Linked DNA regions of Homo sapiens. Each later gene encodes a partner of the first gene's protein in a complex. Each region holds a gene or a part of one and is shown on either strand. Other genes may lie near its edges. The genes, in order: LSM4, LSM5 and PRPF6.

What was found.
Region 2: LSM4 (region 1) and LSM5 share a complex: the UniProt entries of both Homo sapiens proteins name them as parts of the precatalytic spliceosome.
Region 3: LSM4 (region 1) and PRPF6 share a complex: the UniProt entries of both Homo sapiens proteins name them as parts of the U4/U6-U5 tri-snRNP complex.

The regions. Positions count from the first base shown.
Region 1 is NC_000019.10:18,321,273-18,325,020, reverse strand, and holds the start of LSM4 (U6 snRNA-associated Sm-like protein LSm4), read left to right. Parts: upstream 1-1,944; 5' UTR 1,945-2,000; coding exon 2,001-2,003; intron 2,004-3,023; exon of another isoform or gene 3,024-3,287; intron 3,288-3,748. UniProt on the Homo sapiens protein: Plays a role in pre-mRNA splicing as component of the U4/U6-U5 tri-snRNP complex that is involved in spliceosome assembly, and as component of the precatalytic spliceosome (spliceosome B complex).
Region 2 is NC_000007.14:32,488,611-32,492,358, forward strand, and holds the start of LSM5 (U6 snRNA-associated Sm-like protein LSm5), read right to left. Parts: upstream 1,771-3,748; 5' UTR 1,756-1,770; coding exon 1,710-1,755; exon of another isoform or gene 1,415-1,709; intron 735-1,414; coding exon 639-734; intron 43-638; coding exon 15-42; intron 1-14. UniProt on the Homo sapiens protein: Plays a role in pre-mRNA splicing as component of the U4/U6-U5 tri-snRNP complex that is involved in spliceosome assembly, and as component of the precatalytic spliceosome (spliceosome B complex).
Region 3 is NC_000020.11:63,998,032-64,001,779, reverse strand, and holds part of PRPF6 (pre-mRNA-processing factor 6), read right to left. Parts: intron 2,736-3,748; coding exon 2,641-2,735; intron 2,178-2,640; coding exon 2,021-2,177; intron 704-2,020; coding exon 541-703; intron 1-540. UniProt on the Homo sapiens protein: Involved in pre-mRNA splicing as component of the U4/U6-U5 tri-snRNP complex, one of the building blocks of the spliceosome.

The DNA.
Region 1 (3,748 bases):
GACCTCAGGTGATCTGCCCACCGCGGCCTCCCAAAGTGCTGCAATTACAGGCATGAGCCACTGAGCCTGGCCTTTATGTTTCTTATTAAAAATATAAGCAAATTTGGTTCACGTGCTTGGTGTGGTTAAAAAAAAAAAATATATATATATATATATATACACACACACATGCAAATATATATACACATACACATGCATGTATTTCTCTTTTTGCACACAAAAGAGGACATATTGTAAAAACTGTTCTCTACCTTGGTTTTTTTCACTTAAGATATCCAGACACCATTCAATGTCAGTATATGAAGATTGTCTTCATTCCTTTTTATAGCTGTATTACTCTATTATTTGGTCGCATTGGGTTTTTTTCAGTCTTTTGATATTATGAATAATGTCAATAAATAGCATCAGTCATTTAAAAACGAGGCTGGGCGTGGTGACTCATGCCTGTAATCCCAGCACTTTGGGAGGCCAAGGTGGAAGGATCACCTGAGGTCAGGAGTTCGAGGCCACCTCCTGGCCAACATGGCAAAACCCCGTCTCTGCTAAAAATACAAAAATTAGCTGGGCATTGTGGCATGTGCCTGTAATCCTAGCCACTCGGGTGGCTGAGGCAGAAGAATCCCTTGAACCCAGGAGGGAGGGGTTGCAGTGAGCTGAGATCGCACCACTGCACTGCAGCCTGGGTGATAGAATGAGACTCCATCTCAAAAAAAAAAGAACAGGGTCTTCGCAGATGTAATTAAGGATCTTGAGATGACATTATCCTGAAATTTATGGTGGACTTAATAAGAGAAAGGAGTGTCCTTTACAAGAAAAAGGAGCGGCCGGGCTCGGTGGCTCACGCCTGTAATCCCAGCACTTTGGGAGGCAGAGGAGGGAGGATTGCTTGACCCCAGGAGTTCGAGACCAGCCTGGACAACATAGGGAGACCCTGTCTCTACTACAAAAAAAAAAAAGAAAAAAAAAAGGAGAGATACATTTGAGACTCAGAGACACACAGAGAAGGCCAAGTGACGACAAAGGCAGAACGCGGAAGGCTGCATCTACAAGCCAAGAACTCCAAGGATTCCCAGCAGCCACCAGAACCCAGGAGAGAGGCATAGGACACACAGATTGTCCTCAGAGCCTCCAGAGGGAGCCAACTGTGCTGACAACCTCACTTCATTATTCTGATCTCTTGAATTGTGAGAAAATCACGTTCTGTTGTTTTAAACCTCGCAGTGTGTGGGCATTTGTTACAGCAGGCCCCAGAAAACTAATAGCATTCGCCTATTTACTTTGTTTACTGTCTGTCTCCCTGAGGGCCACGAATTTTGTGTTTTGTTCATTCTGTGAGCAGAAACAGGCACAGAGTAGGTAATAAGTACTTAATATGTGCCAGACGCTGTTTTAAGTGCTTTTACATGGTTTCATTCATTTCATCCTTACAGTAAGCAACGTTTTGGAGCAGACACTACTATTTACAGGGAGCAAACTGAGGCCCCGAGGGTCGTGGTCAGGATTCCAACCTATTAAATGATGTTCCCTGGATAATTACAGAATCAGAAAACTAGGAGTCGGAAGGGCAACATCAGGCACGGCCCAATCACCACGAAGCCTCGATTTCTCTCTCTCTACTGCAAACGAAAGGCATTAACTGGCTTTGCCCACAGCGTGGAGCCCAGGAGACCGACGAAGGTTTCACCTGCGCACGCATTTCCTCACAATGCACCCCGCGCCGGCGCGCGTTGCTCCGCCTCCTTTTGCATTACAAGCCGCGGCACTTTACGGCTCTCGTCCTCGTTCCTCCGGCGGGAACACGGCCCGCCCCGCCCTTTCGCCCAGCGGGCCCCGCCCTACTCCGCGTGGATTGGTTGACCGCCCTTCGAGCCCGGTGCTGACTGGCTTGCGTCTCTGCCACTTTCTTTCAGCTTAGTGGCGCGCGGCGCGGCGACGACCGCCGGGAGCGTGTGCAGCGGCGGCGGCGGAAGTGGCCGGCGAGCCCGGTCCCCGCCGGCACCATGGTGAGGGCAGGGCAACTGCGGGGTCTCACCGGGAGGCGGGAACAGCAGTCGTTGGGATCCCTGCGGGCGGGCGCTGTGGGCTTGGTTGGCGCGGGGCGAACGTAAGGTCCGAGCCTCGAGTCCCGCCCCCCGGCACGAGGCTGGGAAACTGAGGCCGGAGACTGCAGGTGGCTCTATCACGTTCGTGTCTGGGATTTAGGGTTGCACGGACTTGTATCCACAGTACAGTGGCCTCGCCTTAGTTAGTTTTCCCAGTTTGCAGGTGGGGAAACTGAAGTAAAAAAAAAAAAGGTGGGGATCCGCCAAATGCAGCAGAGAGTTTTTGGGCAGGGAAGGGGTCCCTTACGCTTCGGGCCCAGTCTGACCTCCCTGATTGAAAACTAGAGTGCTGGGAAGTAGGGGGCCAGTCTGAGTTGTGAAACTTAGTTTTAGGAATTTCAGAGCTTGCAAGATGCTAGCAGCACAGCCTCCTAGGCCTCTTGGTTTCTGGCTGAAAAGCAGGCCTGGTGCTGGGGTGTGGTGTTTCTCCTTGGGTCACATAGCATGTCATTCCAGCGGAAGGGGGCGTTTTGAGCTAGGGGTGGACAAAGTACATCCTCCCAATACAAAGAAGGAAAAATTGCGGCCCAGGTCTCTGCAGGGCCCATTGTTTATGATTCTGGAAGTTCTGGATCTGGGCTAGAAAGTGCCCGTGTCCCCCACTGTGCAGATCGGAAAAGGAATTCAGAGCTGGGAGTTTCCTGGCCCATCAGCTTCTGGTCCTTCTTTTTTCAATGAGAGAAACCAAGGCCCTTGTTGGGGATGTGACTTCCAGACTCTGTGAGACAGTGGGAGATTCAGTAACCAGGAGGGTCCCCCAGGGGTGGCTGCATCAGAACTGTGGATTAGTGAGAACTCTCCCTAAATCCGGCTGGTCAGTGTGTAACCACCCAATGGGTTCACCTTGCCTGTCTTCCTAGACAGATTTATCAAGACAGGGGAATTGCAGTGGAGAAAGAGTATTTCACACAGAGCCAGCTATGCAGGAGACCAGAGTTTTATTATTGCTCAAATCAGTCTCCGCTGAGCATTAGGGGATCCGAGTTTTGAAAGATAATTTGGCGGGTAGGGGCTCAGGAAGTGGGGAGTGCTGATTGGTTGGAGCTTCCTGAGGTCGATGGAGTCATCGACGGGAGTGTTGAAGTGAGGTTTTCTTGCTGTCTTCTGTTCCTGGGTGGGATCGCAGGACTGGTTGAGCCAGATTACTGGTCTGGGTAGTGTCAGCTGATCCGTCAAGTACGGGGTCTGCAAAATATCTCAAGCACTGATCTTAGATTTTATAATAGTGATGTTATCCCAAGGAGCAATTTGGGGAGTTTCAGACTCTTGCAGCCAGAGGCTGAAGTTACCTAAATGGTAATTTCTAATCTTGTAGCTTATTTGTTAGTCCTACAAAGGCAGACTGGTCCCCAGGCAAGAAGAGGGTCTTTTCGGGAAAGGGCTATTACCAATTTTGTTCCAGAGTCAAACTATAAACTAAATCCCTTCCCAAGGTTAGTTTGGCCTATACCTAGGAATAAGCAAAGATGGCGTAAAGGTTAGAAGCACAATGGAGTCGGTTAGGTCTGATCTCTTTTCACTGTCATAATTTCCCGCTACAATTTTTGCAAAGGCGATTTCAAGTGCAAGGATTCAGAGAGCCTGTCCCTCTCTGCGGTGTACTTAGAGGGCAGAGTTGGCATGTAAGACTGGGCAGAGCTGGAAGG
Region 2 (3,748 bases), on another chromosome or scaffold:
TTAACACTACTCACAACTCAGTGACATCTTCCAGTACCATATCTGAAATTTGGTGTTAAGAAAATAAATACAGAATTTACTCTAGCTTCTGCCTTTGTTCAGCTTTTGTTTTTTGTTTTTGTTTTTGTTTTGAGACAAAGTCTCGCTCTGTCATCCAGGCTTAAGTGCAGTGGTACAATCACACCTCACTGCAGCCTCCACCTTTTAGGCTTAAAGGATCCTCCTGCCTTAGCCCCGGAGATTAGCTGGACCCACAGGTGTACATCACCATGCCCAGCTAATTTTTGTAATTTTTGTGGAGACAGGGTTTCATCATCTTGCCCAGGCTGGTCTCAAACTCCTGGGCTCAAGCGATCCACCCACCTCGCCCTCCCAAAGCGCTGGGATTATAGGCGTGAGCCACTGGGCTCGCCTGTTCAGTTTTAATTACAATGTTTAATACAATGGCTCAAATTCAAAATGCTTGTTGTTGATAGGAACTTTACCGTCTTTCAATACATACCTCTTAAAACATTATCATAAGTTCCCTGAGAATGAACTGATTTTTATTATAATAATCACAAATATACTGATTGTCTATAGTTCTTATGTTATTACTTAAGAAAAACCTATACCACCACCACCTTTTAAAAGGATACTGACAAAGTCATCAAATCCTAGAAGAGTACCAACAATTTCCTTATCACTCTTCATCACGATGTGAATTCTTGATCCTATACATTTGTCCACAAGCTCTGAGGAGGGAAAAAATATTATTTTACCATTCATTATTTCAACAAATATTTGAGTGCCTACTGGCACTCTTACTTGCATATAGTGAAAGAAAAACCAGGAAAAACATTCATTCAATAACTTTAGGTCTTATAATACAAATCTCAGTTCAAGCACAGCATCTGGCACATAATGAGCCTTCCAAAAGAGTCTGTGGCATGAAGGAATGAAAACTTTTCAATCACGGCCACGACCACTAGTTCAATCACTCTTCACCAACTACAAAAATATAAGAGGAGATAGGTATAATTATATTCACCGGAAACTCTCCGGTCACTGCTTCCCTTTCCCAACTCTGTCTATCCTCTGTGCTCTGACGGTAGCTTGAACATCTCTTTAGCTAGCCTAGCATTATGTGGCATGATGTCTACTTGTCCAGTGTTCTCTCCTCCACTGGCTTGTGTGCTATTTGAAGGCAATGGCTATGGTTTATCATTGAAAAATGCCCAGGCACGGTATCTAGTGTATAGATACTCAGTTACTACTTATTGAATGAATAAATAACAAACAGAGCTGGTTTCCAGATTCCTCATTTAAGGCTCATTCCGGACCAGGGTGTTAGTGTCACTAACCAACCACATACATAACATGGTCTATCTAATCTGGGGATCGTAAACGCCAGGCTGAGAAGTAGGCCTACTACCTATAACACTGCAGAGGCGGGCTCACAACAAAGTAGGCCGACGACGCGTTCACTAAATGTGGACCTTTTCCAGTGAAGGTCTGGTTTGAGAAGTCAAAGTCCTTGCCTGGAGGAGCCCGACCACGTTAAAGAGCAGGTGCGGCCTGCTGTCGCGAAGACTTGGAGCTCAGAGTCGAACCGCATTTGGTCTTATACATTTCCCCACACTCGGCCAGGGCCTGCCTCGGAACAGCCCCTCGGCCCCCAATCCTGAATGTCAGCTCCCTGTTCCTGCTCCCCAAAGGACGGCGATTACCTAAGGGCAGCAGCTGCGACGGGTTGGTAGTAGCGTTAGCCGCCATGGCTACGCCGGAAGTGGCCTGCCTTCATTGATGGTGGGACGACTTTGAAAAGCGCGCTTCCGCTTTTTCCGCAGCCCAAACAGGCTCGACCAATCTGAGGCCGAGCGCACGATCTAGTCAGCTGCGTGGGTCGCGTTCACTGGCTTTTTTCCCCGGCAAGTGAGATCCGGTGAAATATTTCCTGCCCACTGGACATTTTACCATCTCGGCAGATACCCATAATGCCCTTGAAGTTTTGGAGAGACGTTGAAGATATTTTGCCTTGTGAATAAATTGTTCCTGTAACGTTTGAGTCTTCTTCCCCCGTAAAGTTGCATTTCCTCTCAAGCCAGAATCTTCAAACCAGTATAAATCAATTCGTATTTCCTGCCATCAATTAACTGTTACAATTTTCGTTACAACTACTCATTAAGGAATCTATTGTTTCTTTTTAAAGTCCAGTGGATTGAAAATCTGCAACTAGCATTTTTTAAAATTTTTCTTTAGTGAGGATTTAAGATATGTTTTTTAAACTTTTTACTACTTTAATTCATCGTTCTTATCTTTTTATGTCTGGTAGTCTTATTTATTATAGGCTTTTAAATTCAGTTTCTTCAACAATTCTTGTCTCACAGGCAACCACCAGATGTCACTCTAAATTATTCCAGAAGTGTAAAATCATGCTTTCCACTTCTGTGTTGAAAACAGCAAAGTATCGGCCCTAGTCTGTTTTATATTTGTATCCTAGGAACTTAAACCTGAACAGTCTAGGTCAGGCGCAGTGGTAACGACTGTAATCCCAGCACTTTGGAAGGCCGAGGCGGGCGGATCACCTGAGGTCAGGAGTTCGAGACCAGCCTGGCCAACATGGGTGAAACCCCGTCTCTACTAAAAATACAAAAATTAGCTGGGCGTGGTGGCGTGCGCCTGTAGTCCCAGCTACTCGGGAGGCAGAGGCAGGAGAACTGCTTGAACCCGAGAGGCAGCGGTTGCAGTGAGCCTAGATCATGCAACTGCACTCCAGCCTGAACAACAAGAGCGAAACTCCATCTCAAAAAAAAAAAAAAAAAAAGCTAAACAATAAACATGAGCGGCCACAAAGAACGTCATTCATTCATACAACAAATGGTCATTAAGCACCCATCATTCCTTCATAGACTGAGTTCCTCAAGGCTGAGAATTATGGGAAGCAGTAGTTTACGTGATTAAATTTCTTCATTTTGAATTAAATGACTTTGGTTCAAATTCCATGGTCAGTTATTTGACAATGGGCAAGTTATTTTAACTTTTTAAGTCTCAATATACCCATTGGAAAAAATGGGGACAACAGTATCTACTCATAAGATTAATGTGAAGATTAATTGAGATAATCTATGAAAAGTGGTCAGCATAGGACCTGGCACATAGCCCTTTTAAACATGAGCTGTTATTACTTATCCTTGTTTTCTAATACATGATGTCTGGCTCAGAGTGAAGCTACATAAAGCTAGCATTGCTAGCTGGTTTTGCATTCATCTTATTTTTATAACCAGACATAAGCCACTTTAAGGAAGCAATTTCTTATTTTATACACTGTGCACACTACATTTTCAGGCACACTGTAGGGCGCCTAATGAATATTCTTTAAATTGATTCTCACTATTTCATTCACACCCATCAACATTCTCCTTACTCTTCATAAGATTTTAAATACGAAGTAATGCCAGATTTGTTTGTGACGCTTCTTTCTTTCTCTTTCTCTTTTTTTCTTTTTGTCCAATCCTCATTTGGTTGAAAACCACCTCTTTTCCTGGTTTTCCTTTTCTATTCCTATTTTATTTTCCCCATACCATACTGACAGTATGGGAGAATTCAAAACATTGTTGTTATTTGATAGAGTTTTTAAAAATTAGAAAAATAGGCTGGGCACAGTGGCTCACGCCTATAATCCCAACACTTTGGGGGCCGAGGTGGGCGGATCACGAGGTCAAGACATGAAGACCATCCTGGCCAACATGGTGAAACCCCATCTCTA
Region 3 (3,748 bases), on another chromosome or scaffold:
AGGCACACCGTCTGTCGTTATCTGACCTGAGCTGACGGCACACGCTGCATCGCGGGAGCAGAAGGCACAGCCTCGTCAGCAGCAGGAAAGAGTTCAATCAACGTGTGGCTCTGGTGCCTTCTCAGGAGAGAAAATGAGTAACACCCACAACGGGTCTGCACGTGCCAGGTGCCGGCTCAGCTCTTCACACAGACCATCTCCAGAGCCCCAGGACACAGGCTTTGAGCTACCGTTGTTCTCACCCTGCAGATGAGGGAAGCCTGGACCAGAGTGACCGCCCAAGCATCCAAGATCACACACTGGAAAAAGGCAGGAGTGAGGGCTCAACCCAAGCATCCCTTCCAGGATGGGAACTTGCCCACCACAGTATCCCTCCCCCATGGGGGTCCAAGGGCAGAGGCAACCCAGCCTGAGAAAAGGCCTGAAAAATGTCCCTGGTTCCTTATCCACTCTCACCAAAAGCCTGAGCCAGGAGCAGGAAAGCTGCTGAGAGGAGGGGCCCCAAGGAGGGAGAAAGCAGCACCTCCGAGGGAGGCTCACCTTTCCGAAGAACCCGCTTCTTTGCACGAATGTCCGTTTCCAGCTCTGCGGCTCTGATGTAAATCCTGACAGACTGTGGGAGATGACGGACAGCTTGGGCTACCACGGCCTTGGCTGTGTCCCCAGGCTGCAACCTGGCTGCTTCCAGCCAGACATCTTCACTCTGTGAGGCAAGAGATAAGACCAATAAGGCTCAGTGCAGGCTGGAAGCCGCAACAGGGCAGCAGGCACAGATCTCCAGAGCAGATCCTCGGGCCCCAGAATTTACGAAAGCCAATTAGCTCAGCCTCTAACACACCTGCACCAGGAGTCGCCCCCTTATAACCACACTTGGGAACATGGCTACCATATGTCTGACTGAAGAACACCTAATGGCCGGGCGCGGTGGCTCACGCCTGTAATCCCAGCCCTTTGGGAGGCCGAGGCAGGTGGATCATGAGGTCAGGAGTTTGAGACCAGCCTGGCCAACATGGCAAAACCCTGTCTCTACTAAAACTACAAAAATTAGCCGGGTGTGGTGGCAGGTGCCTATAATCCCAGGTACTCAGGAGGCTGAGGCAGGAGAATTGCTTGAACCCGGGAGGCAGAGGTTGCAGTGAGCTGAGATCACGCCACTGTACTTCAGCCTGGGCAACAGAGCGAGACTCAAAAAAAAAGAAAAAAAAAAAATGAAACACCACTTTGTGAAAAGAGCATGATTTCCTTCAGGACAACTCCATGGACAAAGCAGAGACTGCACATCTGCTCGGGTCGTTCTTTTTTGTTGTTTTTTTTTTTTTTTTTGAGACGGAATCTCGCTCTGTCGCCCAGGCTGGAGCAGCATGGTGCAATCTCAGCTCACTGCAACCTCCACCTACCGAATAGCTGGGATTATGGGCACCTGTCACGACGCCTGGCTAACTTTCATATTTTTAGTAGAGACGGGGTTTCGCCATGTTGGCCAGGCTGGTTTCTAACTCCTGACCTCAAGTGATCCACCCGCCTCAGCCTCCCAAAGTGCTGGGATTACAGGCGTGAGCCACCGTGACTGGCCACCATTAGGCGGGTGAAGAGCTGACCAACTGAGCTCTTTATAATGAAGCTTAGCCTGCCGTCAAACCAGTGGTGGATTCAGGCGTGGTGGATTCAGGCATGGTGGCGGGCGCCTATAGTGCCAGCTACTCTGGAGGCTGAGACAGGACAATGGTGTGAACCTGGCAGGTGGAGCTTGCGGTGAGCCGAGATCGTGCCACTGCACTCCAGCCTGGGTGACAGAGCGAGACTCCGTCTCCAAAAAAAAAAAAAGTGGTGGATTAGCCTTCACTCCACATGAAAACAAGCAGGAAAAAGCCCTTGGCTGCTTTTCACATCCTCCCCCAGCCTGCCCTATTGTCTGTAGTTTCAATACCAAAAGACAAAGAGATTTGCTCTAACAAGTTTACTCCCGTAGGGGCCACAATCACGCAGCCTCCCAGGAAACGCCTCCCAGGAAATACCTCACCTTGGGGCACATCTCCGTCCCCTTCATGATAAGGTTCCGAGCTACTTGTAGCTTCCCAGTGACTTCTTCCAGGCGGGCTGATGCAATCCAGGCTGGCGGGTGATGAGGGTTCGTCTCCCGAACAGACTTGAGGAGCAGTCGCGCCTTCTTGATATCACTATGAGAGGGAGAGTGCACACGGCATCAGGCCATGCTGTCAGGGGTGCACCCGAGACCTGGGATGAGGGCACCCACTTCACAGTCACAATGTAAGAACTATCAGTCCTGATGTCCTGAGTTACAAAAACCAACTCAAAACCTCAGTGCGCACTATTCCAAGCCTCTGTAGCCTCCCCGCAGACAAACGCTGAGAACCGAAGGTCCAGATGGGACATGTGGGACACAGCCAGCTGCTTTCCTGCCCAGCACAGGCAGGGACTTTGCAGTATCATATGTAACACATTGAGTGTACGCAATGAATGGATACAGATACATTTCAAATGGAAAAAACAAACTACTCCACTTTACATTTCTTAGAACCGCCATGTCCCATTTTGACAGCATACTGTCCATATAAAATCCAAAATACCCTAGGCAACTAGAGTCTCCATCCCAGCCCAGCGATTCTGCAAAGCACTCACTTGATGTCTCCTCCGTGTGTCGGGATCATGGAATTTAAATCCGTCAGGTAGCCTTTGGGGTCAACGACGGTCTGTCCACTCACGGAGTCAGACACCTGTGAGACAGGCCAAGCTAAGAGTCAGCTGGACATGACCAGGTGCAAAACAAAGTTCTCAGAGGGTCCCTGGTGCCCCTCCCACAACCCTGAGAGAGCAGTCAGAAGGAGAAGGAAAACAGCCTTCATTTCACTCAGACAACACCTTGTGATAATAACAAATTTCTTCTGTATGGAAAAAGATCTATTTTTTTTTTTTTTTTGAGATGGAGTCTCGCTCTGTCGCCCAGGCTGGAGTGCAGTTGTGCAATCTCGGCTCACTGCAAGCTCCACCTCCCAGGTTCACGCCATCCTCCTGCCTCAGCCTCCCGAGTGGCTGGGACTACAGGCGCCCGCCACCACACCTGGCTAATTTTTTTGTATTTTTAGTAGAGACGGGGTTTCACCGTGTTAGCCAGGATGGTCTCGATCTCCTGACCTCGTGATCCGCCCGCCTCGGCCTCCCAAAGTGCTGGGATTACAGGCGTGAGCCACCGCGTCTGTCCAAGATCTATATTTTTATTTATTTTTTTGAGACAGGGTCTCACTCTGTCACCCAAGCAGGAGTGCAGTGGCAATCATAGCTCAGTGCAGCCTCCAGCTCCTGGGCTCAAGGAATCCTCCTGCCTCAGCCTCCCAAGATTCTGTCTCTACAAAAAAAAGTGTAATTTTTGACCAGGCGTGGTGGCTCACGCCTGTAAACCCAGCACTTTGGGAGGCCAAGGTGGGTGGATCACAAGATCAGGAGTTCGAGACCAGCCTGGCCAGGATGGTGAAACCCCGTGTCTACTAAAAATACAAAAATTAGCCAGGCGTGGTGGCACATGCCTGTAGTCCCAGCTACTCAGGAGGCTGAGGCAGGAGAATCACATGAACCTGGGAAGCAGAGGCTGCAGTGAGCCGAGATCACGCCACTGCCCTCCAGCCTGGGTGACAGAGCAAGACCCCGTCTCAAAAAAAAATAAATAAAATTTTTATTAAAAAAGAAAGAATAGAAAGCAGGGTCTCTGACAAATATCTGTACACCCGTATTC